Linked DNA regions of Homo sapiens. The protein of the gene in region 3 purifies or fractionates together with the protein of the main gene of each other region. This does not show direct contact. Each region holds a gene or a part of one and is shown on either strand. Other genes may lie near its edges. The genes, in order: SLC30A5, PITHD1, METTL9 and SLC30A1.

Region 1 (7,539 bases), on a different chromosome or scaffold from region 3:
TGTTAAAATGTTATATATTCATCAAAGTCCTTCTTTACTCTCTTTTTTTTTTTTTTTTGAGACAGAGTCTTGCTCTGTCACCCAGGCTGGAGTGCAGTGGCACGATCTTGGCTCACTGAAAGCTCCGCCTCCTGGGTTCACACCATTCTCCTGCTTCAGCCTCCCGAGTAGCTGGGACTACAGGTGCCTGCCACTACGCCCGGCTAATTTTTTTTGTATTTTTAGTAGAGACGGGGTTTCACCGTGTTAGCCAGGATGGTCTCGATCTCCTGACCCTGTGATCCGCCCGCCTCGGCCTCCCAAAGTGCTGGGATTACAGGCGTGAGCCACCGCACCTGGCCCTGTCTTTTTTTTTTTTGAGACATAGTCTCACTCTGTTGCCCAGGCTGGAGTGCAGTGGCACGATCTTGGCTCACTGCAACCTCTGCCTTCTGGGTTCAAGCGATTCTCCTGCCTCAACCTCCCGAGTAGCTGGGGCTACAGGTGCGTGCCACCATACCCGGCTAATTTTTGTATTTTTAGTAGAGACGAGGTTTCACCATGTTGGCCAGGCTGGTCTCGAACTCCTGACCTCAGGTGATCCGCCTGCCTTGGCCTCCCAAAGTGCTAGGATTACAGGCGTGAGCCACTGTGCTCGGCCAAGGGAGCATAATCTTTGAGCTTAATTCCATTCAGTATTTATCAAATGCCCGATTCACATCCCCTTATTTACTTCACATTTTTTAAAAATGAAGATTTGGAAATTATTTGTATTAAAAGTAATATAAGTAATATAATTCTGTTCCTTAAGATGGAATTTGCACTTAAGATATACCACCTCGACAGTCAATGTACCTACCCATAGGAGAAAATCCGAGTGGCTTTCCACCTACTCATCAGGGCAGCAAAAAGTCCCATGACTAAAGCAGAGCAGTCAAAAAGCATGTGGAATCCATCCGAGATCAGGCCCAGACTATTGGTCAGCACGCCATAGAATAATTCCACAAAGGTAAAAAGCTAAAAATGTCACCAAAAAAAAAGGGAGGAGTATGTTGGGCACTGTTTCAATTAGGAGGATTTTAACCCTTAATTATCCAAATTTACTTGAAGATCTGCTATAATTGTTTAGTTATTTAACTGCCACTTACATTAGAAACCCTATTTCACACAAATTGTAAAAACTAAGATAAACCCATTTTACAAACTATTAAATTGTAAAAAACTAAGATAAATCCATTTTAGAAACTATTTAAAAATGGTTTTGTTTATATGTCTATAAAAATAATAAACTAGGTTATAAAATGTTAGCAATAGGTGATTTATAACACTGATTGCTAATAGTGAGATCCTGTAAGTTATTAGAACTCTTTAAATGCTACTATATTTACTGATTTGAAGGAACATACTAAATCAATGCTTCTAAAATGCCTCACAAATTGTTTGCTTAAGTGGCTGGGCACGGTGGCACATGCCTTAAGGATTGCCTAAGGAATCTGAATATGATCTCGTAATCTTGCTATTATACTTAGAAAAAATTTAAATTTTAGCTCATCTTATTATCAGAAATTTGGGAAGTACTAAACTTATACCAGAACTGTCAAAATTAAAATATTATGCTTTTAGGATATGTCAATTAACATTTAAAAATCTTACCAGATTCAAGCACAAGAAGTAAAAGATCTGCCTAGAGTCACTCTCCTCAAGAATTTGTTTTAGTGATTCCTTAATAAACCTAGGGATCGATTGAGAGCTATGCTGAAAAGCATCACCCATGAAGTTATAAAGAGGTGTTCCTTCAGGAGAATATCCAATAAGGGTACCTTTTTGTCCTCTCTTAGAGGGAGATGATAAGATATTGGCAGCTACAAAGAGAAAAAACAATATTGTTTAAATTTTCGAAGTTTAAGCTACCAAAACCAACACAGTAACTGTCGGCACTAAATGCAAGCACTGAAGAATTTCCCAAAATAAGTAAATGATGTGACCATCAAAATCCATAAATAGAAATTTGTTAAAATAAAAAAAAGGGGGGAATGCTTACACAAAATGAAGAATATAGCACTCACTACCACTCCTCCAGACAGGACGTGTTCAGTGCTCTCCTGGTGTGCTGCTTTGTTCATAGCCCGAAGCTGGTCTGTTATTGGATGTGTCCAAAAATTTCCAAAAAGGAGAGCACTAATAAAAATGGGAAAGGATCCATAACGAGCACATTTGGAAACTTCCATTTTGACTGAACAAATGGAATCCACGTAGAAATCCAGGATCATGACAAAAAAGATAACCGTTGCAAAAGGCATAATGAGAGAAAACCAAGACTCCACTTTACTCTAGAAATTAAAAAAAAGAATTGTCAAGACTATACATGTATAAAGTTCACATCTTACAAGATGTTTCTGTTAATCTTTTAAAAAAATAAAAATCGCATGATTCAATATGATTCATAATATGCCAACATATAAAAGCTATAAGATATTGGTACATTTTCTCAGTATTCTCCAAAGTTTTAAAAAACAAAAGCACTATTGTGTAATCATTCGATGAACACTAGGCGACACACAATCTTTAAGCCTAACACATGGTTAATTGCTCCTTCTTCAAATGATTCCTTTGGGCCATAGCAATGTGAGGGATATGTAAATGTAATAGCATTTGATTTGTATTTTCTATAAACAATAAAATTAACTCCAAATTTTTTTTAAAAAACTACAAAGAAAAAGCAAAGACAATTTAAGCCACTTTCAACCTCAAATTAAAATATAATTTATTGAATACAGTGAACTAAAAATTTAATAGCAATTCATTTTACTAGCAATTTAATACCAATAAATTCTTGCTCTTATCTTACCTCAGTTGTCACAGAAAGAACAATGACCCATGGGCACAAGAGAAGCACAGAAACAAGATGAGATAAAGCTTGAAGACGTTTAGCTCCACCAACGTCGACAGAGAGCTTTCTGGAAGCTGTATGAAAACCAACTTTACAACACAAAGCCAGTACTAGCAATAATACTCCACCCTGTGAGTAAAATTAGATAAGTCTCATTAGAAACACACACAGTTCAACAGTCAGTCGTTAAATACATGATCTTTTTTTTTTTTTTTTTTTTTTTTTTTTTTCCCCAGAGACAGGGTCTTGCTCTGCCACCCAGGCTGAAGTATAGTGGCATGATCACAGCTCACTGCAGCCTCAAACTCCTGTGATCAAAGAGATCCTCCTGTCTCAGCCTCCCAAGTAGCCGGGACTACTGGCACACACCACCACACCATGCTAACATAATATTTAAGGAAATGGAACTAGTATATTTTTCCCATATACTCAATTACGTAACTACTTAAATGGCCGGCAATGTTATAACTTACTGATAATTATTTTATTTTATTTTTTTTGAGACAGAGTTTCGCTTTTGTTGCCCAGGCTGGAGTGCAATAGCGCGACCTTGGCTCACTGCAACCTCGGCCTCCCGGGTTCAAGTGATTCTCCTGCCTCAGCCTCCAGAGGAGCTGGGATTACAGGCATGTGCCACCATGCCTGGCTAATTTTGTATTTTTAGTAGAGATGGGGTTTTTCTATGTCAGTCAGGCTGGTCTTGAACTCCCGACCTCAGGTGATCCACCTGCCTTGGCCCCCAAAGTGCTGGGATTTCAGGCGTGAGCCACTGGGCCCAGCTGATAATTTATTTTAAATGTACCTTTATAGTTATAGTTGCTACAACTTTTCAGAATCTTTTGATCCTGTTAGGAACAAAGAAATCATACCTTGTGATCTGCCACACCTAAGAAGGCAATGGCTGTGTAAAGCATATGAGTTAGAGCACTGTCATGATGTCCTTCAGCTAAGTGAGTTGAAGTAAAGGAAAAAAATTCCAAAAAGTCACTCTTTGACACCTGAAGTTCTCCTGAAATTTTAGTTACATTATTTTGGATTGCATATAGACTGATCTGGAGGCCTCAAACTTAATTACTTTCAATAACATGTTTCACTTAAAAACAAAACAAAATAAAACAATCTAACATTTAATTCCAGGACCTCATTTATAAACTGGAATGCCTGTATTTCTTTTGTTGTCTCCAAAACAATTATAATAGTGCTTAAGATAAACTTGCCAGATTTTAGTAGTTAACCTCTAAAAGACACATTGCATACATACTTTAAGAACGACAAAGGTACAAGAGCAAGGAATCTCCCTGGACCACTCCTGTCCAGTGGAATTAAGGTTGCCCTTTAAGACTGACATGTAAAATGAGTCCTAAATCTGTCTTCTAAGTCACTGACCACATAAGTCTTAGCAAATTAAGTGGCAAGCAAAAGAGGGTGGGGAATAGAGGTTGTATCACAAGCAACCTGGAGCTTTTCCAAAGTCACACTCTTCTCCCTCACTGTAACAAAGAAAATTATTATTAGTTTACTAATAAGTTTTAGGGCAGTGAGTATCAGTAATAGAAGAATAAAAACTGGTGCTTGGAGTTCTGCTGGATGGAGTGGGTAAGGATGTATGAATAGAAAATAGAAAAAAAGGCATGTTTGTAGAGTAAAATGAGTAGATATATTTGACTAGAAAGTTGGGTTTCTGTAAGAGAAGAGTTGGGGCTGAGCTAGAGATAATAATTTAGAGCAAGACAATGAATACTAGGTAAGGGAATTTGAACTTTTTCTTTCAGGCAAGAAGATACTAAAGGTTTTTCATTTATCAGCCTTTTAATTGTTAAATTATAAGGGAGCAAACATGTTGAGTGGCAAATCACCTTTTTTTTTTCCAGCACCAGGACATTCCAAAATATTCTTTCAATGTCCCTACATTTCTGAAAATTTAGGGTACTGTAGGTGATACAGAGATGCTATAAAATATTTAACTTATAATGAGTTTGTTCATTATTTGAATACTGATTTAGAATATCTACATTAATCTATGAAAGTTTCATTCATCATTGATCAGTTTAATTCACTTATCCTTTCTTTTTCCATTGTTCCAGGCTTCTAGTTTTCCTCAAGACTTGAAACAACTCTGATCTATTCCAAAAGGATACGGTGTTCAGCCATTTTAGCCATGAGATCATCATTGTCAAAAAGCAATAAACAGATCACAGCAATAATGAAAAAAGCAGCTCCCCTTGTCTGAAAATAAAGAAAACAACATCAAGGATGACTTTTTCAAGGGTTGATTTTTAAGACCGTAACTACATAAATACTAAAGAAAAACATTTTCTCAAGTAAGCATTTACAAAAATGCATTAAAAAACAGAAAAAAATCTGACATTAAAGCTCTTACATATTATAAGCTTACAGTATTGGCAGTAAGATATCAAAGAGATATAAACTAATGATAACATTGATTATCTCTTTGCTAACATGGCTGGGCATATTACTATGTACAAATTGGTACTGTTTACAGAATCAGCCTTCCTAAATGCTACTTTACTTCTGGTTGAAAAGCCCACGTAGCTAAAGAATAACTAGTAGGAACTTATTTTACTCTACAATATGCAAGGAATAGAGAATATTCTAGATACTACTCCTCTAGAGAAAAATAATCCAGAGGGCACGGTAAAACCAGCAAAGTCATTTCTAAGATCTAGTAAAGTACAAAGTACTTAAAAAGCTGATAAAATTTATGTTCTCATTCCAGGGAAAATTTTTTTTTTTTTTTCAGACAGATCTCGCTGTCGCCCAGGCTGGAGTACAGTGGCGTGAACACAGCTCACTGCAGCCTCCAATTCCTGGGCTCAAGTGATCCTCTTGCCTCAGCCTACCAAATAGCTGGGACCACAGGCATGTGCCACCATGCCTGGTTAATTTTTTATTTGTAGAGACCAGGTCTAGCCATGTTGTTCAGGCTGAGGAAAAAGGTTTTCATAAAAGAAAATTATAGAAAGGACATATTAGCTCGGTTTATGTAAATATTTCAGAATGGTAGCTTCAAGAGCAATCTAAATAGCATTACTATACATTCCTTTTTTTTTTTTGAGGAGAGTCTCTGTTGCCCAGGCTGGAGTGCAATGGCACGATCTCGGCTCACTGCAACCTCCATCTCCCGGGTTCAAGTGATTCTCCTGCCTCAGCCTCCTGAGTAGCTGGGATTACAGGTGCACATCACCATGCTTGGCTAATTTTTGCATTTTTAGTACAGACGGGTTTCACCATGTTGGTCAGGGTGGTCTTGATCTCTTGACCTCGTGATCCACCCGCCTCGGTCTCCCAAAGTCCTAGGATTACAGGCATGAGCCACTGTGCCTGGCTAAACAGCATTACTATACATTCTATATTTACAAATTTACAGGTATAACATGTCTTGTATGATACATATACTTGTAGAATACCTATTATATATAGATACATTAAGTGTATTATATATACCTATAATGGAAGTATAATACAATACTTCTATTAAAGTTTACAATGCAAAGTGAGGATACTCTTCATTCTATGATTACCACTATAATGGATAAATTCTGTTAGTGTGGTATTACAACAAAATTCAGTACACTACACATGAGAAAAACCATGTACTTTTAAATTTCTTAAGTTTTCACTGAGTTAGGATATGGCAACATCAACAACAATCAAATACAGAGAACATAACTTAATCTTTTTGTTAACAAAGAAGGCAACTGAGAATTTTGTAATGCTTCAGTCTCATAATTAAGAAAAAAAGGCCAGGCGTGGTGGCTCACGCCTGTAATCCCAGCACTTTGGGAGGCCGAGGCGGGTGGATCATGAGGTCAGGAGTTCAAGACCAGCCTGACCAATATGGTGAAACCCTGTCTCTACTAAAAGTACAAAAATTAGGCCAGGCGCAGTGGCAGGTGCCTGTAATTCCAGCTACTCAGGAGGCTGAGGCAGGAGAATTGCTTGAACCTGGGCAGCAGAGGTTGCAGTGAGCTGAGATTGTGCCACTGCACACCAGCCTGGGTGACAGAGTGAAACTCTGTCTCAAAAAAAAAAAAAAAGAAAAAGAAAAAAAAAGTCCGGGCGTGGTGGTTCACACCTGTAATCTCAGCACTTTGGGAGGCCAAGGCGGACAGATCACAAGGTCAGGAGTTCAACACCAGCCTGGCCAACATAGTGAAACCTTGTCTCTACTAAAAATACAAAAATTAGCCAAGTGTAGTGGCATGTGCCTGTAATCTCAGCTACTCGGGAGGCTGAAGCAGGAGAATTGCTTGAACCTGGGAGGTGGAGGTTGCAGTGAGCCAAGATGGTGCCACTGCACTCCAGCCTGGGCAACCCAGTGAGACTCCATCTCAAAAAAAAAAAAAAGAAAAAACAATCATCAAGTCCTGGACTGATGCCCTGATCCATTTCTCACACTAATGAGAACACTCTCACTTCTAGTTACTTAAGGAGGAAAACTTTTTTTTTAAATGTTTTCAAGTCATTTTTATTTCTTTTGTGAGTTGTCATTCCCAGTTTTTTGCTGATTTCCTGCCAAGGATCTTAAGCATTTTTTAAACTGAAATGGGTGATTTATACTTTGAAAGGAATGTAAAACTTATTTCTGGCAATTTTTGTTGTTAGTTTTTTGTATACACACTGATTTCTGTTATACGTTAAGTTTATAA
Region 2 (8,022 bases), on a different chromosome or scaffold from region 3:
ATAATATATCTTAAATCTCTGGAAGTCCTTTAATCAATTTTTCAGATGAATTTTTTTTTTTTTTTTTGAGACAGAGTCTCACTCTGTTGCCCAGGCTGGAATGCAGTGGTGCAATCTTGGCTCACTGCAACCTGCACCTCCGCGGTTCAAGTGATTCTCATGCTTCAGCTTCTCCAGTAGCTAGGATTACAGGCCTGTGCCACCGCACCCAGCTAATTTTTGTATTTTTAGTAGAGACAGGGTTTCGCCATGTTGACCAGGATGATCTTGAACTCCTGGCCTCAAGTGATCCGCCCGCCTCGGCCTCCCAAAGTGCTGGGATTTGAATTATTTTTTTCTTTTGAGATGGAGTCTTGCTCTGTCACCCAGACTGGAGTGCAGTGGCACGATCCTGGCTCACTGCAACCTCTGCCACCTGGGTTCAAGCGATTCTCCTGCCTCAGCCTCCCAAGTAGCTGGGATTACAGGCGTGTGCCACCATGCCCGGCTAATTTTTGTATTTTTAGTAGAGACGGGGTTTCAGCATCTTGGTCAGGCTGGTCTTGAACTCCTAACCAGTCTCGGCATCCCAAAGTGCTGGGATTACAGGTGTGAACCACCATGCTCGGCCTTTAGGATTTGAATTTTTTATTTATTTGTTTTTATTATTACTTTTGAGATGGGGTCTCATTCTGTCATCCAGGCTGGAGTGCAGTGGCGAGATCTCGGCTCGCTGCAACCTCCGCCTCCCAGGTTCAAGCAATTCTCCTGCCTCACCCTCCCTAGTAGCTGGGATTACAGGCACGCACCACCAGGCCCAGCTAATTTTTGTTTTTTTAGTAGAGACGGGGTTTTACCAGGTTGGCCAGGCTGGTCTCGAACCTCAGGTGATCCGCCCGCCTCAGCCTCCCAAAGTGCTGGGATTACAAGTGTAAGCCACTGTGCCCAGCCTATATATCATCTTTTATTGGTTTTGTGAGATAAGCTACTGCACCCGGACTGAATTTTTTAAATGTAAAGTTCTTCTTATATGTTTCTCCAGCACTCAGAAAGCAGTTTTCCCCTTCTTTTAGGAAGGCTGTTCTGGAATAAGGTAAGTTGTCAAAAAGGGTACTAGCTCTGGTGGCAAAAGATTCAGTGTTGCAAGAGGTATACACAACTTTGCTAACTAAATGCCACGCAAAGTCAGGTGGAGCAATTCCATGTCAACAAAACACATAAGATCATTACTGTATGAAATAGCAAGGAAAAATGTTGAAGCTAACCCCTAGAATCCATAAAGATCATATGAGATCTGCAGCTAGTTATTAAGAAAACTGCAGAGTCATCAACAAGTGACATTTACACAATGCTCTCTGAATGAATCATGTCATAGTAAGCACTTTGAAATATGAGACACGCTGTTGGGCCTAAAGATGCTTAATCTAAAAAAGTCATTAATTCAGGAAGAAATATATGTATTCCAATGCAGAATGAGAACAGGACCAAGATATTTTAAAAGGGGAAATATTAAACCCGGTAAGAAGAAAATGATACTATTCTGGAATAAAATGTTACCAGAAAAAGAGAATTAGGAGCTCCTTTGAGGGCCTAAGCCTTTGCCACTTACAGTCTCATCTCAGAGGGGTGTGAGTCATCATCCTCTCCCATTATAATGATGCCTTTGAGCTTGACATTGCCCGTAAATCTGCCAGAATGCAAAAGAGAAGGTTGTCAAACCTGAGTTTGAATACCTGTTTAGTTGTGTGACCCTGGGCAAGACCCTTCCCCTGTATGGGCTTCAGTTTACTCATCTGTCAACTTGTACTAGATAATTTCTAAGATCCTGTCTACCTCTAGCATTCTACAATTCTAAGAAATCTACCTCAATTTCTCAGTTATTGTTCTACAAATACATCTGTTTCCAGTCTGCACCAAGAAAGCTATGATGCTTTCCTCCTCAAACCCACCAAAGTAATTTATCCCATTTCTAGAAGCAAATGTGTGCTCTTGACACCAGTGAATGAATCCATCTGAGGCAACTGGGTACAGCCTATTTAGCCTGAGGTAGGCACCAAGGAGATACTTACGGAATATTAAACAGAAGCTCTTCATCTGCATCACTTTCAACAAACTGGAGGGGATGGGGAGGGGGGAGGAGAAAGCAACAAATATTTGCTGAGAGCCTACAATTTCAGGCATCTCCCACCCTGCTCTACAACTGGGGTGCAATGGGAAGAGTCACTCTCCCTTGGTTTTCCAAGACTTATTAACTTGAAGCTAACCAGTCTTATCCAGTGTCATAACAGCCACAGGCCACCCAACTGGAAGGTTCTTAACAAAAAGCCCATGAATGAATTTCCAGGGTCGAAGAGCCTTCTGAAGTGTGAACTGAAAGGCAGGTGTTTATGTGCATTTTTCTGAGAAGAAGGTCCACTGCTTTCAAACAGATAGCAAAGGGGCCTGCGACCCCACAATGTAAAGAACATTTGCTCTATATGGGAACCACCTTTCATCTCCCTAGGCTCATCTTCACCAGGTAATATGATGAGGCAGCCATTAGCACCAATGGTCCAACGGCCCTCACGACCATCCTCTCTAGCCCACACAGCCCTGGAATAGAGCGTTAGGCTGTGTAGCTTGACAAAACTGTCCCCGTTCCCTCTAGGCCTCAGTTTCCCTATATGCAAAATGGGGAGACAACGCTGCTCGCCTCCCAAAGAGCTGGCAGGAGACAGGCACGGAAAAGCGCTTGGCAACCAGGCTGTCGTTATTCTTAACATCAGAAATGAGTAGACCGACGGCCCGAGGCCCCACACGCACCCTGCCCCGCCCGCCCCAAGCCCCAGGCGGCCCACCTTGGAGCGGTCGGTCCGCTCCTCCCACGGCTTGAAGACGCCGCGGCCGCTGCCCTCGCGGCTCTCGTTAAGGCATTGCAGCCGCTCCAGGTCGATGCGCAGGTACAGGCCGTAGGCCAGGCCGCGCTGCTCGGGCGGCTCCTCCCGTTCGGCGGCGCAGCGGCAGCCACCCCCGCCGTGGCTGTGACCGTGCGACATGGCAACGCCGCCACCTGCGCGTCCTCTCGGCCCCACCGCCGCGCTCGCTCGGCTCGGCTCGCCTCAGACCAGCTCCGCGCCGTTCAGCTCCGGCAACTAAGCGCGCCGCGCCTGCCGCGTCGTAAAAAGCGCCGCTGCGCGGCGCATGCGCGTGGGGAGAAGGCGGGGGGGCGGGGGGGGTGGGGTCGAGCGGAACTGACGTAGGACGCGCGCCTCCCAGGTGCCAGAGTTCGTATATGACTCCAGTCCTGGCGCTGGATGCTGCTGCTGTTCCAGCTTCCTAGGTGTGGAAACTGAAGGACCAAGAGATTAAACAGGTGTGCTGAGTAAACTCACAGGCTGAGATTCGAATTATCCTCCCCCGACGAGGATGGAGCCTTCGCTGTCTTCCTTGATCGCCACGTTTCTTTGCGAGCCGATGAAGGAAAGCGTGAGGAATGATAAGGCCCTGGAGACTGGAGAACGCGAGCTTATCGCTGTCTCACATGCGCACGGCTTAGACGTTGAGAGCTCACAGGCCCACTTGCATAACCACTTTCTTGATAGCGGGGTTACAGCTTGAGAGCATGGGGCTTTGTGCACGGCCAGACCTAAAGACTACTCCTGGGTCTGCTACTGGCCATTGTGACACCTTAAGTCATTTCCCCTATTCTGAGACTCCGTTTCCCCGTCTGTAAGGTGGAAAGAATAGTATCTGTTTCATAGGATCACAGTGAGTATTAAATGAAATAATGCAATTAAAGAACTCAGCAGGCCGGGCGCGGTGGCTCACGCCTGTAATCCCAGCACTTTGGGAGGCCGAGGCGGGCGGATCACGAGGTCAAAAGATCGAGACCATCCTAGCCAACATGATGAAACCCCGTCTCTACTAAAAATACAAAAATTAGCTAGGCGTGGTGGCGCGAGCCTGTAGTCCCAGCTACTCGGGAGGCTGAAGCAGGAGAATCGCTTGAACCCGGGAGGCAGAGGTTGCAGTGAGCCGACATCGCGCCACTGCACTCCAGCCTGGCGACAGAGCAAGACTCTGTCTCAAAAAGAAAAAAAAAGAAAAAACTCAGCAAATGGCTGACACATGATGGGCATTCAGTAGCCGATGGTTATTACGGTCAAATCCAACCACAGCAACTTACTAGCTGCGTGGCCTTGGGCAAGTGACTTGATCTTCTGAGACTCAGTTTACCCCCTGTGAAGTGAAGGGATTGGACTAGATGATCTCTGCGTTTCCTCCCCCATGTGATATTTCAAAGTACTTTTTTTCGAACAGCTGGTTGTGGCCTGTCAATAGGTTTTAAAATCCGTTTATAGAGAATTGTGATCAACATTTAAAAAAAAAATAGAATACAAAAAAAAAAAAACCCAGAATGTATCACACATTTCAAGTCTCAATTGATGAAACTTTTGTTTCAGTTTTGAGTTTGTATTCAGACACAATATGATGTGTTTTTCATATTGTGGGTTGAGATCAAAATAATTAAAAGTCACTGTTTAGAGGTGAAATAATCTTGTTTTCAGGATAGAATGTTTTCCTACTCCCTGGTGGGGAAAAGACAGGATACAGAAAGAGAGTTATGGGATACCCTGGCTACCCTCTTCCCTTCACATCTGGCTCTGGAGTGCTCAGTGGGGCTGGTGAAGTATAGACCAAAATATCCATTTTTTCAAGTTCCATTCAGAAATATTTTCTGGGCCACATGCAGTGCCTCATGCCTGTAATCTCAGCACTTTTGGGAGGCCAAGGTGGGAGGATCACTTGAGCCCAGGAGTTTGAGACTAGCCTGGGCAACATAGGGAGACCCCATCTTTACAAAAATAATTAAAAATATTAGCCCAGCATGGTGGCTCATGCCTGTGGTCCCAGCTATTTGGGAGGCTGAAGTGGAAGGATCTCCTGAGCCTGGGAGGGTGAGGCTGTAGTGAGCTGTAATCATACCACTGCACTCCAACCTGGGTGTCAGAGCAAGACTGTCTCAAAAAAATAAAAACAAGAAAAATATTTTGATGTCCTATTTTAGTTACTTGTGCAATAAGCAAGCTTGGTTCTGTTTCAAAATAGCTCAGTGCCGTGAATTATTCCTGCTTTTAGGTCACAGTTTCAGGTAAGGGACCTGGAATGTGGCAAACAGTAAATGTTTACTTGACTGATATACTTGGTAGCCTTTCTTTGGTAAGAGTGTCCTTTTGAAGAACCAACTCAGGCCTTACCCCGGAGATCTACTCATTTTGGCTTTTTCCTGTTGCCTTCATTAATGATTTATTTGAGCACTGTGTGCTAAGCACATTATGTAGTTCATCTCAATTAATTGTCACATGAACTTTAAGAGCTAGGTACAGCCAGGTGTGGTGGCTCACACCTGTAACACTTTGGGAGGCCGAGGCGGGTAGATCACTTGAGGTCAGGAGTTTGAGACCAGCCTGGCCAGCATGGTGAAACCCCGTCTCTACTAAAAATAGAAAAATTAGCCAGGCATCGTAGCGTGTGCCTGTAATCCCAGCTACTCGGGAGGCTGAGGCAGGAGAATCGCTTGAACCCAGGAGGCAGAGGTTGCAGTGAGCCGAGATTGTGCCACTGCACTCCAGCCTGAGCGACAGAGCGAGACTCCATCTCAAAAAAAAAAAAAAGAGAGCTAGGTGCTATTACCTACTGTTATCTCCAATTTGAAGATGAGGAAAACTGAGGCTGAAAGAGGCAAACTAACTTGTCTGAGACTAGGTAAAGTTAGGAGGTAACCAGGCTTTGAACACATCCTGTAGTGTTCTTGTAACACATCAGTAGTTTCCTGGTTAGGGTGGGGAGGTTGAGGCGGGAGGTGCACACAAAGTAAATATGCTGTATCAATTAGCTTATGCTGTGTAACAGATTACCCTAAAACTTTGATAGCTTTAAACAACAAACATTGATTAATTCGCATGATCCTGTGGATTAGCTTTTCTGGGCCAGTTCAGCTTGGGCTGGAAAGTTTGGGATGGTCTCACTCTCGTCTGCTTGATGCTGGCTGTTAGCTGGGATGATGGGACCACGTGTCTCCAGCAGACAAGCCTAGCTAAATTACATGGTGATAATTGCAGAGTTCCCAGGAGCAAGAGAGGGCAAGACTCAATTGCACAAGCACTTTTTTTTTTTTTTTTTTTTTTGAGATGGAGTCTTGCTCTGTCACCTAAGCTGGAGTGCAGTGGCACAATCTCCGCTCACTGCAACCTCCCCCTCCCGGGTTCAAGCGATTCTCCTGCCTCAGCCTTCCGAGTAGCTGGGATTACAGGCGCCTGCCACCACGCCTGGCTAATTTTTGTATTTTTAGTAGAGATGGGGTTTCACCATGTTGGGCAGGCTGGTCTCAAACTTCTGACCTCAGGTGATCTGCCCACCTCGGCCTCCCAAAGTGCTAGGATTACAGGCATGAGCCACTGCGCCCTGCCAGCACAAGCACTTTTTAAGCCTTACATCTATAATCTTTCTATAATGACCCATCAGCCAAATCCAAATTCTAGAGTGGAGAGCTAGACTGTAGACTTCACCTCCTGATTGGAAGAACTGCAAAATACTGTGGCTCCTCCCCTCCCAGTAGGTCTGTATTAGTTGTCTTTTGTTGTGTAACAAATTATTCCCAAACTTAATGGCTTAAAACTGTAGCAGGACAAGCTGCAGATAAAACCTGTCAGACACCAGGTTAAAGAAGGAAGAGACTTTATTCGGCCAGGAGCGTTGGCAGAGTTGTGTCTCAAGAACCAAGCTCTCCAAAGAAAAAGTTCCTGGCCCTTTTAAGGGCTTATAACTCTAAGGGGGTCCACGTGAAAGGGTTGTGATAGATTGAGCAAGTGATCTATAGGTAACACATGTGGTTAGGGTGGGGGCGTTAATCTTTAACCTCAGGCCTGGTAAGTGGCATCAGTTGGTCTTGCCACTGACTTCATTCCTGTTGTTTTTCAGCTTTTACTTCTTCCTTCTCTTCAGAGACAGTAAGAGAAATGGCCTCTCTCCTCAAAACAACAATTAACATTTATCATCTCACAGTTTCTGTGAGTTAGGAATTTGAGAGCGTCCTAGCTGGGTGGTTCTGGCTTGGGGTCTCTCATGAGCCTGAAATCATATGAAGGCTTGGCCAGGGCTGGAGAAGCCCCGGCTGGCAAGTTTGTGCAGGCTCTTGGCAGGAGGCCCCAGTTCCTTAACACATGGACCTCTCAATAGTACTGTTTGAGTGTCCTCATGATACAGCAGCTGGTTTTCAGCAGAACAAGTGATCTAAGGGCAAGGTAGAAACCACCAATGTCTTTTATGACCTAGCCACAGAAGTCCCATATTGTCAATTTTGCAACATCCCATGGTTTCACAGGTCAGCCATATTCAGTGTGTGCGGGAACTTCATAAGAGTGCAGATACCAGGAGGTAGAAATCATTAGAGGCCACCTTAGTGGCTGGCTACCATGCTGCCATACATGTTAAGTGGCACTGAAAATGGCTTTATTCTACTGTACTTAATTAGTAGTTTGGCTGTGGATAGAATTCTTTCATAATTGTGAAGAAATTGCTCTGGTTTTCTTCTGGCTTTGATAAATACAATGCTGTTCTGAATCCTGATTCTTTTTATGGGTTTTCCCCCCACCCCACCCCGTTTTCTGGAAGCTTTTAAGATCTTCTCTTGGTATTCTAGAATGTGATGATTTTTGTTGTGCTTTGGTCTCTTTTGTCATTCATTGTGCTGGATACCTGAGGGACCTTTTCAATTTAGAACCCCTAGAACAAAGTGTGAGCACACAGGTTAGGACCTCTGCATGCGTGGACACAAGGCCCTTCCAGGCACACAGATTTAGAGATATGGAGAGAATGGGGCAGGGCTAGGGTCCTGTTCTCTGCCTCTCACCACCTTCTAGTACAGAACTCTGAGAGGCCCAAAAATGTGAATGTGGTCTTCCAGGTCATTGTGAAGGTTTATTTATTGACATAGCAGAATAGATTGTCTTTTATTTAATAGTTCATTAGGGTCATTTATAACTTTTTAAGTATGCATTCAGC
Region 3 (8,221 bases):
GGCTGGGTGTAGTACCTCACGCCTGTAATCCCAGCACTTTGGGAGGCCCAGGAAGAAGGATCACTTGAGGTCAGGAGTTTGAGACCAGCCTAACCAACATAGTGAAACCCCATCTCTACTGAAAACTACAAAAATTATCTGGGCGTGGTGGTGTTCACCTGTAATCCCAGCTACTCGGGAGGCTGAGACATCAGAATTGCTTGAACCTGGGAGGCAGAGGTTGCAGTGAACCAAAATTGGGCCACTGCGCTCCAGCCTGGGTGACGAAGCGAGACTCCATCTCAAAAAAAAAACACTTTATTTGTAGACACTGAAATAAATTTGAATTCCATAAATGAAACTTCATGTATTACAAAATGTTATTTTGATATTTTCTTGGTAACCATTTAAAAATATAAAACTATTCTTATTTCATAGGCTGTAAAATAAGTCTGTGAGACCAGTCTGGCCTCCCAGCCACTTCCCTGCTCTAAGTGAAACCCTGCTTCTTGCTTGCCCAAAGTGAAACATAATCCCAGTTTTGAAGCTAGCACACCAAACCAAGTTACTAAAATGGCACTGCTACTACAGTTTTAGAGCAGCTTTAGCCCAAAGGAGCCTTGCCTCTCCAAACTATACTAACAAAATAGCCATTTTTAACGAATAAACATTGCCCAAGATCTCTCTTTTAACCACAGAATCCTCCATCATAATTCCTTAATAAAATAACCAGAAGGAACACTTTTGCTAAGTATGGTTCAATCAAATCCACAACCCTACTTTTATGCAACTCCAAAAGGCCCAGATGTGGCTGGCTATGGAACTCACACACCCAACTGAACACTTAGAAGACCTTGTATAAAACTATTAATCTGAAGGAGGAAAAACAGTTACAGTTACTTCACAAGCAACGAAGTTATAAGGCAAACCCAGGATCCTGGAATATTAAGTGGAAAACAAATTATCAACTCCAGCCACAGTGCAGAAAGGACAGTTTCCTACTTTATCTCATGGTGGTTTCTACACACCTTTCTTCTGTTCCTTTTAATCTTTATTCATGCACGATTATTTTCATAATATGAATGTATTCATGTCAAAATAATGTCTGGATTCATTATTCTAAGGAAAAGAGTTGACCCATCCCCCAAATATTCAGAAAACACCATATTAAGTCTTCACCCTAAAGAAATTATCTGCTGAATTGTTAGTGAAGGGGTACACACACACACACACACACACACACACACACAGAATATAAATACGGTATCTGAAATAAACGTATCTGAAACCAGTATTAGTTTTCATTAGAACTTAACAGATTCAGCTTTTAAAAGGTACAGTCAGAAAGTATCCTCTGCTGGGAGATATTCTGAGGCTATGTCTACAGCTGCAATTCCGCCTCCATACACATCACAGTGTTGAAATAGTGTTTCAATTTTAAAATAAGTGCAATTCTTTTATGAGCACTAAAAACCTACCAAGTGGCTGCAGTAGGGGTAATCATGATAAGTGTTATAAATACCAATAGCTAAGAGACTCAACCATAATCCCCCATCAATGGAGATAAATCGCTTTTTCTCCTATCCAGGACCTTATTTCTATCAACTGCTTAAAAATGTTAAAAATGACATTTCTAATTCATTGTCTACCCCATTGTTCCATATGTGACATTCTGGTAACTGTACAGTCAACGGTACAGTACCTTTGAGTTGTCTCTATAAGAATGAACTAGTGTAAGCAAATAATCCATAGGAATAAATGTGGTTTTGCAATTTAAGTTTACATACATTCCTAACCATATCATACAAGTGATCAATGATACTGATATTGCACCTAACAAACTGCAATGGCTGGAGGCTTTCAAAAAAATTTACAGAAATTTAGGATTCCTTTAACAATAGAAAAAAGCCCAATATACATATTACTAAAGACTAAATGCTACTTTTCTAAATTGCTCTATCTCCTTCTTAGACAATTCTCTACCCTCATTAAAACACATGAAATCAACCTGGGTGTAAATTCTCTGAACACCTGGCATAATAAAAAAGTAATGTAGGAAAATGAGAAATATATGAAAATGATGAGACACAAGATGATATAGGGAATAATTAATACTCTATGGAAAAGCAAAATGTATTATAAATGCTAGCTATGACAAGCCAACACTCTGGCAGAGTTCAAAAGCCTCTTTTCAATGAATTTAACATTAACTGCAAACTATGTTAAGGTCATATACGAAATATCTCACTTAATTCTACAGTTAACCTGTACACGTTTAAGTGGCGCAAGACTGAGCTAATGAAAAGCCTACCTACCCGGTCACAGCGTAACGCTCACGATGCATAACTAAAACTCCCTCCCGTCCCGTTCTGTTTTAAAAACCCTTCCTGTAAAACTTGCATAATCTTCCTCCTCATCACACACAATCTTTCTAGCAGGCTGACTAAATCCAAGTTTAAAGGAGATCTCTGCTAGGTAGGAGGGGAAGGTTCCGTAGGATGGGAGCGACAACCTGTCAAACCCATTTTTTAAGTGCTTAGGGAGAAATGTCACCCCAATCAGCCTGGAGAGTTCAATGGCTTGCGATGTACAGTTACATTTCTTCACGACCCTTTGTACGTTCTGGGATTCAACGAGACAACAAGAGGGGCTGGCTTTTCGTTTTGTTTCTCGGGGTAATGGATCTGGCCGGGTCTCTTCAGTCTCAGGCCTCGGTGCCAGGCGGGCGCCCCCAGCCACGCTCTGGCCCCAAAGTTCCCCAGTCCCGCTGCCGGGCGTCCGCAGTCACCGCCCGGGACCCAGGAACAATGCGGGGCTCCGGGCCGCTCACGATCGGGCCCGGGAGGCCATGCCCCGCCTGCGCTGCGGAACAAAAGGCGCTCGCGGGGCCGCGGCCGGGTGCCCGGGGCTCGCGGAGTCGACGCCCGGCGGGGAAGGCGCGGGGAAAACTTTCCAAGGGGCCGAGGCGGAGGGGCGAGGGCCGGGCCGCCCCCTCGCGGAGCCGTCCCGCACAATAGCCGGGCCCAGCGCGGGAAGGCCGGGCCGCCACGCCCCCGCCCCGGCCCCGGCCCCAGCCCGTACCTGGTGGTTCTCCTTCCTGCCGCCCGCGGCCGCCGCCGGCCCACCCGGGCCGCTAGTCATGTTCACGTACAGGGAGCGGGTGAGCGGGCTCCGCAGCGTCCACATCCTCCGCGCCAGCCACACGGACGCCAGGCTCAGGCACAGCCAGCCCGCCAGCAGTCTCATCGGGGGCCGCGGCCGCTCGCTCGGATCACCGCCGGCGCCGGGGCGAGGAGGAGGAGGCACCGCCGCCTCCGGCCACCGCCGCCACCGCCCGAGCTCGAGCCATCGCGGCCGCCTTGCCCATCCAGCCCCCTTCAGGGCAAAGGCTGGGGGTGGGGAGGAGCAGCCGGCGCGCAGCCTCGGCACCTCCCCCTTCCCTTCCGGCCGCGGAACGCCGCTGCCCCCTGCACCAGTTTCCATCCGGAGCACTTACGAGCGGCCGCGTCGCTTTCTCCCCCGGCGCCCTCCCTCCGTCCAATGAGCGGGCCGCTGGGAGGCGGGACAAAGGGAGCGCGCATCCGCCCGGAGCGCGTTCTCGTGTCCCGGCCCTGCCTTGGCCTCTAGTAAATGGCGGAGGTGGTTTTAATTTTTTTGAGGGCTGAGGAGATCACTTCCGAAGGCGGTAACTGCAGCCTCCCTGCCCCTCCAAGGTGGTGCTGGAAGGACCTCCAGTCTTTCCTCGCCTCATCCCACTCCACGGCGGGACTTTGACAGGGTTACCTCTCGACCCTCATCCCACTCCACGGCGGGACTTTGACAGGGTCGTGCAGTTAACCCCGGGGGCGCAAAGAGGGGAGTCATTCCTTTCGTGCATCCTGACACACACAGGTTCTTCCCGGAGACGAATGGTGCCAGTGATGGTTGCCCGCTCGGATGCGTAGTTTCCAGTTTACATTTAGAACCGACCTGCCAGACTCCCTCCTCTACTCTCCCCACCACCACGACCCGCCTGCCCCGTTCCCCAAGCCTGAGAAGTTGCTGGCTACGTGTTTCTATAAAGAATGAGTGAAAATTCTGCCTTTTGGGGAAGCTACCGCAGCTGGGGTACCCACAAGTAATGTTTTAGATGTATTGATGGCCCTGCCCAAGAATGAAGACCTCAAGTTAGACTCCTTGGCTGCCTTGTTTCCTTGAATTAGCACAGGGAAGTTGGACCCAACACTCTTAAGAGTGAACTCAGCTCTGGGAGCAGTGTTTAACCCGGATATTTATTTGATCATTTATAACACGAGGAGACCTAGCAACATTTCAGAACTGAAGGGTTAGTTACACTGTGTTCCTGTCTGCAGTTCTTCCTGCTATTATCCAAGCCACAATTAAGGAGTAACATTTCGTGGGAGTCCCTAACTTTAATACTTTCCTAGGTTTGTTTGGAAAGTGCTTTTAATTTAACTGCACCAGAAATAATGTAAATGTGTCTAAGTTCAAAACAAAAGAAGTAAGCCTTTTGGTTAATTCAGCGTTGCACATCAGAGATTTTCATTTATGAAACAGTGGGGTGGTGAGCCACAGATGGGGAACAAAATCATTCCTTACCCAACAGCTTTTTTTTTTTTTTTTTTTTGAAACGGAGTGGAGTCTCGCTCTGTCTCCAGGCTGGAGTGCAGTGGCTCGATCTCGGCTCACTTCAAACTCCGCCTCCCGGGTTCAAGCAATTCTTCTGCCTCAGCCTCCCGAGCAGCTGGGACTACGGGTGCGCGCCACCATGCCCAGCTAATTTTTGTGTTTTTCGTAGAGACGGGATTTCACCATGTTGGCCAGGATGGTCTCCATCTCTTGACCTCGTGATCCGCCTGCCTCGGCCTCCCAAAGTGCTGGGATTACAGGCGTGAGCCACCGCACCTGGCCCAACAGCTCTTTCATTAGCTTTTAAGAATCTCAGCTTGGCACCTTTGGCTAACAAGGATATCTTGTTGCCTAATGTAACAGGCTGTAACAACAAACAAAAAGGCACAGGGTGGGTGGGGTTCGGTATTTTGTGTTCTCTCTTTCCAATATACTCCCTGACTGCTTCCTGCCAAAACCCCGAAAAGCCCAAGCCTTACTAAATCTAGTTCAAACCTCTAGTGGTCCTGGCCCAAGTCATCAAAAAGGAACTATGGTAGCAAGTCCAATAACTGTTTATTTACTATGACACCTCTCCTTCCTGTCTCTTAGGATCAGTGTAACAGACAAAGCAACTCTGTCACAAAAGGAAGCCTTCATCTTTTTAAAGTGGGGGTGAAAGCAGCAGGAGTGCATAAAATGGCATATTTCCTTTCTGAAGACAAAGGAGACAAAAAGGTATGCCCCAGCTATAGAGTGAGACCACATAGCTGTAGCTGAGAGACTGCAAAATGTTATCAGATGAACAAGCAAGTAGATGGCTGCTGTAGTCAGAAGGATTTTGGGGTCAGTTGACTGCCACGAAGCCTAACAGCTCAAAGGAGCAGATTTTGTTTTATATCTGAGCAGCTGGCCTAGAAAAATAAATCACTCATACATTTAAAATACTCTATAATAACCACCAAACACTCAAACCCATGCTATTTACATTTAGCAGGCACAGGAAGAAACCAGAGCATCCGATGATCAAATGATTTGCCTGAAGGTAGCAGAGTAAATTCAATAGCTGACCTTTTCATAGAACTTGGTATCCCAGCTCGTGGTCTTTCGATCCATCTAAGAAGCTTTGCTGTCTCTTCTCAGAGAGCCTCCTGAATTACAAATGAGGAGAAACGAAAACAGCAAGAGTAAATATACGAAGCAGAAGTTCAGATTGCCCACTGGGGACAGCCCCCTTCCTTCATCTACTAGAATGTCACTACCGTATATTAAAACCTCAATTCTCCATAATGGAGACGGGAAGGGGCAAGATGACACAAAAAGCCAAATAGCCAATACTCGTTCTAACATGATCTTGAGATGCAGTTAGTAATATTCAAAAGATACACAAATGACCCTCTGCACCGAACTCTGCTCATTGACCCCAGGTGTCCCACTTGGGTCACAGCCCTGTACACAGGCCCAAAATTTTGGCGGGATCACTTTCCTATCTAGATCTCTAGGCAAAGGCTTTTTGTTATTGTTGTTCTTTGAAGTTACAAAGCTTGGCATTTTCATATTCTCTTTTCAATTACAAAGTATCATGTTAAGAGAATCCACAAGCAGAGAGTTTGGATCTGTACAAAACCTATTGATGATTGTTATCTCCTTGAAGAGATAATGATTTAAAAAGAACTCATATAGACCAGGCAGGGTGGCTCATGCTTGTAATCCCAGCACTTTGGGAAGCCAAGGCAGGTGGATGGCTTGAGCCCAGGAGTTCAAGGCCAGCCTGGGCAACATGGAGAAACCCCGTGTCTACAAAAAATACAAAAATAAGACAGGCGTGGTGACATGCACCTGTAGACCCATCTACTCAGGAGGCTGAGGTGGGAGGATCACCTGAGCCTGGGAGGCTGAGGCTGCAGTGAACTGAGATTGTGCCACTGCACTCCAGCTTGGGTGACCCTGTATCAAAAAATAAAAATAAAAATAACTCATATAATCACTTTTTTTTTCCCGAGATGGAGTCTTGCTCTGTTGCCCAGGCTGGAGTGCAGTGGCACGATCTCGGCTTGCTGCAACCTCTGCCTCTCGGGTTCAAGCAATTCTCCTGCCTCAGCCTCCTGAGTAGCTGGGATTATAGGCACCTGCCACCACGCCTGGCTATTTTTTGTATTTTTAGTAGAGATGGGGTTTCACCATGTTGGCCAGGCTGGTCTCAAACTCCTGACCTCGTGATCCGCCTGCTGCAGCCTCCCAAAGTGCTAGGATTACAGGCGTGAGCCACTGCACCTGGCCATAATCATGTTTTTATGGACAGATATTTTTTATGCTTCTTAATATTGTTTTGTATACCTTCAGAGAAAGATACAGCTTTTTCCCAGTATATTCAATAGAATGTGTCCTGTAGTTATTAAGCAATGAGCACCTCTAACAAAATTAGCAAATGTACTCAACAATTTGTTTAATTAATTAACGTAGGAGATCTTTATCTGAATTTAGTTGATACAACTTCAATCCTGTGCAATGATATCACTGTGGGCTCCAGTTGATGAATTCTAAGTCAAGGCAAAACTGCAGACAGCTTTGAAAAAAAAAAAATTAGTAGCCTAGGCCAGGCACCATGGCTCATGCTTGTAATCCCAGCTACTCAGGAGGCTGACACAGGAGAATCGCTTGAACCCAGGAGGCAGAGGCCGCAGTGAGCTGAGATCATGCCACTGTACTCCAGGCTGGGCAACACAGTGAAACTCCATCTCAAAAAAAAAAAAAAAAAAAAAAGCCTCAAGTAGCAGAATTGAACCAGGGGTTAGAAGATGTTAGTAGTTGGCCAGGTGCGGTGGCTCACACCTGTAATCCCAGCACTTTGGGAGATTGAGGTGGGTGGATCACAAGGTCAGGAGTTTGAGACCAGCCTGGCCAACATGGTGAAACCCGGTCTCTACTAAAAATACAAAAAAAATTAGCCAGGGGTGATGGCCTGCACCTGCAATCCCAGCTGCTCATGAGGCTGATGCAGGAGAATTGCTTGAACCTGAGAGGTGGAAGTTGCAGTGAGCTGAGATCACACCACTGCACTCCAGCCTGGGTGACAGAGTGAGACTCCATCTCAAAAAAAAGAAGACGTTAGTAGCAAATACAAGTAACATCGTGTGCTTCATTGGAGAACTCCCAGTGCTACTCATTAGCATGGTAGTTTATCATCTGCACTTTGAGCCAGACTATCTGGGTTTTAAGCTGGGCTCTATGCTTCTTGATTATGCAATTTGAGGCAAATTATTTGACCTCTACATGTCTGTTTCCTCATCTGTAAAATGGAAATAATAATAATGGTTACCTATTTCATAAGGATGCAGTGAATATCATGTTATATACTATAAATATAAAGGGCTTAATAAGTGCCTCAACATTTAGTAAACACTCAAAAAATGTTAATTTGTTTTCACTTTAACTTGGGTAAATCAACCTCATCTGAGCCTCTCTTTCCTCATCTGTAAACTAAGAGCCATGGTTCTGAGCTGTCTGCTTCACAAGACGTGTGTGAGAATTAGATGATCTGAGAGTTTTTTAAACTGCAAAACATCAACCAAAGTTATCATAATAAAGATGCTCAGTCCTAATGTAAAATGCCCACGTGAGGGATCTAGGTGGC
Region 4 (5,633 bases), on a different chromosome or scaffold from region 3:
TCAGTCTCCCAAAGTGCTGGGATTACAGGAGTAAACCACCATGCCCAGCCCTGGCTAATTTTTGTATTATTATTTTTTTGGTAGAGACCTGGTTTTGCCATGTTGCCCAGGCTGGTCTCGAGCTCCTAAGCTCAAGTGGATCTGACCCACCTCAGCCTTCCAAAGTGTTGGGATTACAGGCATGAGCCACCCTGCCCAGACCCCCAATTCTTTATACCACTATTCCTGCTCCCTTGCCTCTCAAACCCTACTCCTTTCCACTTTAACCTACATATCCTTTCCAAATTTTTTTTTACCTCTTCTTTGGAATATCTACTGTATATAGATCAATTCCTTTATCTACTGCCATTTATTGTCAGTTGATTTTTTCAACTGTTGTCTCACAGCCCAAAATACAAGTTCTTTAATGAATTTTTTTATGAAACTACATTTGTGATAGTCCTGAGGCTCATAGAACCACAATAATATACTATTGCGTTAAGAATTTTAGATGATTTACAGGTGTAAAATATTTAATAAACCTTATTAGTAACTATGCTTATAAATAAAAAAATAGCAAGTGCCAAAAGCAGCAGGTTAACCACAACTATATAATCTATAAGCTTAATGCTTATAATAAAATTCAAAGCCACTGAGTATTTCATATTAGTGAGCCTTTGCAGTGTTACCCTTTCAATTTTTAATTGCAATTTTTGCTTACATTTTCTTCCACACCCATCTTGTAACCTAGTCACTCTGTACACTTGCAACATTTGTGTTAAACTGAAATTTCTCTTTCAATTATCTGAAATCCAACTCTCTGTGTAACTAAGCCTAGTATCGGAGGGGAGGCCATATGCACAAATGAAGTAGATATTAAAATTAGTTTATTTTTCTACTTAACTTTTAATAAATGAGAAGAAACACAGTAGTCTGTCTCATATAGAACATTTATAATACATAACAATCCATAAAGCCTCATGGTGAGGTAGGAACAGCTTTGGAAAATAACACACAGTCATGAAAACATACAAAAAGTTAGGTAAAATGTTGCAGCACTAAAGATATTTTATCTGCATCTGTATTTAATGAGATGATAACTGCATTTAACTGGCCCACATCTGGCCCAAAGGACAGGCAACAGAAGACACAAAACAACACAACATATAAGTTTCATAATCACAGAATATACTGATACACTTCATTGTGCTGTTTCAAGGCAGAACCATAACATGGCAATTTGTGTCTTTTTATATATATATATAACCACATATTAATTGTATGTTACATTCCCTCCAGCATCTTTTTGCCAAAGACACTGGACCATAAAATTTTTGGTTTAAAAGTTTAAATTGAATAACATACAAAAGGCTCTTGTGCCAGTGAAAATGACTGCTAAATATTCCAGAGCTTGTTAGTAAAACAAAATAGCATTACCACATAGTATCGGTAGAGCTACATCAAAATAGTGCTATTATAATCCCAATTTCAGAGACGTGAAACACTGTATGACACAGTTTCAATTTTAAAAATGACAAACAAAAAACCCCTACACCTTCCCAAGAGTTTTAACACTGTTTATGACTTAACTGAAACTCAGTATTAAAATAAATATTTTTATATTGTAGAATTACTCTCCATATTTGTGTGAACATCTTAAGACAGCAGGTTAATGACATTTTTATCATTCAAATGATATCTGCTTATACACAGTAAAAATCTTCAACTCAACACCAGTTAACATACGAAATACTTCACATTAGGTTCCATAGGTCTTTTCCCTCAAAACTGTCAAAAATTCAAAATTAACTTAAGGATGTTAATAAGACACAAACGGTTAACACAGCCTTCTACCTACTGTGATTTTCCAAGGTGCATTTGATGGACATTTTTCCTATTCAAGTTACATACCTTAGTTATTCAACATACTGTTCTCTAAAATGTTAAAACACATACAGCAAAGTTTTTGAGGATTCTGTTTTTTAGGTTTTAGTCCATAGTTTTACAATGCAGACATCCTTCAGAAAAAACTAAGCAATCATAAAAGCTAAAAGGTGACAATGGAGAATTAAATCTCTCATCACTAAGGCTGCATTTGGCTTGGAAAAATTTCTTGGTTTTAATTCAGGCACATGCAGCACCTCCTTTTCACTAAACTGAGACAACAGACAAGTTTCTAAACACATATTCTACACTGATCTTGCTCAAATATAAAAGAGCCAGCAGGAGAGATGCAACTCCTAAAACTGATGCAGTGTTATAAAATAGCATATTTAAATATTGGGTTTAAGTCTCCTAATAATTCAGAGTATTTCCCTCATTTTCTTTCAGAAAGGAATAAGCTATTTTGAGAAAGACACTTAAATCCTACAATATTTAAATACAAAAGCATGTCTTTTTTAAAAGATAATGCTAATATAGCTACAATGGGTTAGAAAGTGCATTGTAAAGAAATAAATAATTCTCTGCTAAAACTCAAAAGGTGAGTCAGTGCCCACTGTTTCTGCCGACAGTCATTTGAAAAAAGAAAATCCTATGGTACCACCATTATATATAAGCTACTTAAAAATTATGAAAAGTGAAATAACTCAAACCTAAAGGCTGTTATCTTCAAAGCACTTTTGAAAAACAAACAAACATAGCCCTTGTCCTATGCTTATATACCATTTTTTAAAATCCTCATTCAGTTGATGTCTTGTACTTAGGTGTCATGCCATCTTTAAGACACAGACCTCAAGTAGAGCATTTGTAAAGAAAACCTCATTGAATGTAATATATTTTATCAGTTATCTTTGTATCATTGCTGAAATGTTTATGTAACAAATTGATATCTGAATAAAATGTTCTGTAAAGTATTAAATCAGGAATGTACATGATACAGTACAATTCACAGCTTTCTCTTCTTGTTCGCCCAGATGAGATCCCTCAATTTCATGTTTAAAAAAAACCACCCAAACCTTTTCGCAAAATTCAAGGTAACTATCAGTTTAGGAATTGAATTACACAATATCAGATAAGAATATTAAAAGATCAAGATGTATTGCAAACTGGCAGGTTATGGTTTTGGCCCATTATAGTAAATGTGAACTTACAAACTGTGTTCCTAAAATTACCATATTTTCACTGGAAAAAATCAGCTGTTCTTAAATAGGCCCATCGCCAGCAATAGGCTTATACTAGGAAAAACACACACCACAAAAGATCATCCCTTTAAAAAGTAACTGTCAAATCCTAACACTTTTTCCTCTTACAACCCATTAAACAATGAACTATTTTAAATCCCAAAACGTAGCCATCCCAAAAGTAGTCAGCTATAAAAGTAGTCAGAATACCTTGTTTCTAGAAAAATAGAGCTATACATAACTGATGCTAATATTAATCCTTTCAAGGACAAAAATCTAATTTTGTCACAAAGCATACCCTCTATCAAGAAAAATATAACTTAAACACCCTTAAATATTTGTGTTGGATTTGAAATCTATAGCAATAATGAAATAGCCACAATTTTCTGTGTAGATATTGTGGCATCTTGCAAAATAAGCCACTATTGGAAGATCTGAGTATGTGAAGACAGGATGACTTACAAAATCTTAATTAATTTTGCTTTAATTATTAATTTTGCTAAGAATTTAATATCCAAACTGCATTAACCTTCTGGTTTTCTTTCCTCTCAAGTCAGTGACTCTTAGAAAGCACAAACATTGCTGGTTGTGCTCAAAAAGCTCCATTTAAATCCATTCATGATTGGTTATCATGAAATGACCTTGAAAATTTTTTTTCAAACGCCCGGTTTAAAAGATTACATTAATCGTTTGCGTTTAGCATGTAATTATTAGGTGTCAACATCCTTAAAAATACTTATATATTTTGTAAATAAACTTGCAGCTCAATGTTTTTATACCAATCTTTCAAAGAAAGTAATGCTGGTGAACATGTCCAAGTTTCAGATTAACTTTGGTAGAATAAAAAGTTGAAATTCTCAAAATAATTTAGAAATGTAGTCTCAATATTATCATACAATAACCTAAATATTTAGTTTGGTAAACTTTCTTCCTTGCTCTTACTACCCCATTTGCCCCATTGTGTGTAAACTGTAGTTCAATTTGTTAATTATCTTACTGTTTAATAGCCAGCAATACAGAATACAGGATAGTAACTGATCTTATTTCCTACTAATAGCCATGAGTCACTCTTAAAATATGCTGCCATTATGCTATGTAATGATCTCAAAGGGCAATATCACCTAAAATGTCAAAGGAAACAAACTGTTGATGATTTTAAAGTTCTATCAATTATAATTCTAATAAAGTATAACACTGGGGGAAAAGAAAAGCAGAGAAATTCCAGTAACAATTTTATTTATCCCCCTAATTTTTATCATGGGAAAAATCCAGAAATCAAATGTCATTATGTTATATAAGGTTTAACTTACTTTAAACAAAAATGTAACATAGTGTTAAAACTGGCTTTCCAAAACAGTCACAGCATAGCTGTACTCTGTACTAATAATCACAAAATTGTAATATAGAACTCTGTTATGCAGTCCCATTATGTTCTTACAAAAATAGAATTAAACTGTGTGACCAGACAAGGACTTCAATTACACTACTTGGCAAACTTAGAATTTCAGTGGAGTCTTTTTCCTCTTGCAGTTTAAAGCAAAAGTCAAATATCACATCTTTTTCAAGACTCACAAAGATGATTCAGGTTGTTTGTTTGGCATGTTTTTAATCTCTATCACAACAGCAGGGATGTTTTCAGCTTTAGTCCTCCTGGGCTTCTTCTCTAGATTGTTACTAAGTTCTAAACAAGAAATGCTAACTGCTGGGGTCTTTTCTGCATCCTTTCCAGAAGGGGCTTGTGGTAGTGTCCCACAACATTGCTTCAAAGCACACTGGGTTCTGCAGGCAAGTTCACACGGAACTACACTTGATTTAGAGCCTACACTAGCAAATTCAGGCTGAATGGTAGTAGCGTGAATTCCGTGATTATGAAAAACGTCTTTAATGGTTTTAGCCACCTCCATGTATGATGTTGGATCTTCACATTTTATGTGAGCAGTGGCAATGATTCTGCTTCCAGCAAGTTGCCAAACATGTAATTCATGAACTTCCTCAACTCCTTCAACATTTCGAAGTTCTTTTATCAAATTTCTGATATCAATTTGTTTAGGAACAGTTTGTAGAAGAATAAGAGCAGATTCCTTAAGTAATGGATAGGTTGTGTAAAGAAGTATACAAACCATTACAACACAAAGAGTTGGATCTAAATATAGCACCCAGCAAGGACCAGCCTCATAAACTGATGCATGAGTACTATTAATTATTTCTACAAATGCTTTGCAGGGGTCAGGGAAACATGGATTCACACAAAAATCCCCTTCAGAACAACCTTTCCAAGAAAAGTAAAAGACTAAGGCATTTACTACTACAATCACTGAACCCAAGGCATCTCCAAGGACATGCAGAAAAACTCCACGCATGTTAAGTTGTCCAGCCCTATCTTCTTCCAGTTCCATATGGTCAGGTTCTCTGACAAGATTTCCATTCACTTGTACTTCCACTGTATCACCACTTCTGGGGTTTTCTGGGTCTACAAAGAAATAAAAATTTTATATCAAATACATTTAAAGTGTTTATATAAACATCCTTGTC

What was found.
Region 1: the proteins of METTL9 (region 3) and SLC30A5 purify together in Homo sapiens (co-immunoprecipitation; 3 studies listed by BioGRID and IntAct, with this or other methods). This does not show direct contact.
Region 2: the proteins of METTL9 (region 3) and PITHD1 purify together in Homo sapiens (co-immunoprecipitation; 2 studies listed by BioGRID and IntAct, with this or other methods). This does not show direct contact.
Region 4: the proteins of METTL9 (region 3) and SLC30A1 purify together in Homo sapiens (co-immunoprecipitation; 3 studies listed by BioGRID and IntAct, with this or other methods). This does not show direct contact.

Annotation. Positions count from the first base shown.
Region 1 is NC_000005.10:69,110,696-69,118,234, reverse strand, and holds part of SLC30A5 (proton-coupled zinc antiporter SLC30A5), read right to left. Parts: intron 5,096-7,539; coding exon 5,008-5,095; intron 3,816-5,007; coding exon 3,739-3,815; intron 2,999-3,738; coding exon 2,828-2,998; intron 2,310-2,827; coding exon 2,021-2,309; intron 1,842-2,020; coding exon 1,633-1,841; intron 997-1,632; coding exon 839-996; intron 1-838. UniProt on the Homo sapiens protein: Together with SLC30A6 forms a functional proton-coupled zinc ion antiporter mediating zinc entry into the lumen of organelles along the secretory pathway.
Region 2 is NC_000001.11:23,773,508-23,781,529, reverse strand, and holds the start of PITHD1 (PITH domain-containing protein 1), read right to left. Parts: upstream 3,113-8,022; 5' UTR 3,015-3,112; coding exon 2,817-3,014; intron 2,093-2,816; coding exon 2,049-2,092; intron 1,667-2,048; coding exon 1,589-1,666; intron 1-1,588. UniProt on the Homo sapiens protein: Promotes megakaryocyte differentiation by up-regulating RUNX1 expression.
Region 3 is NC_000016.10:21,594,738-21,602,958, reverse strand, and holds the start of METTL9 (protein-L-histidine N-pros-methyltransferase isoform 1 precursor), read right to left. Parts: upstream 3,383-8,221; 5' UTR 3,226-3,382; coding exon 3,061-3,225; intron 1-3,060. UniProt on the Homo sapiens protein: Protein-histidine N-methyltransferase that specifically catalyzes 1-methylhistidine (pros-methylhistidine) methylation of target proteins.
Region 4 is NC_000001.11:211,570,719-211,576,351, forward strand, and holds the end of SLC30A1 (proton-coupled zinc antiporter SLC30A1), read right to left. Parts: intron 5,572-5,633; coding exon 4,670-5,571; 3' UTR 850-4,669; downstream 1-849. UniProt on the Homo sapiens protein: Zinc ion:proton antiporter that could function at the plasma membrane mediating zinc efflux from cells against its electrochemical gradient protecting them from intracellular zinc accumulation and toxicity.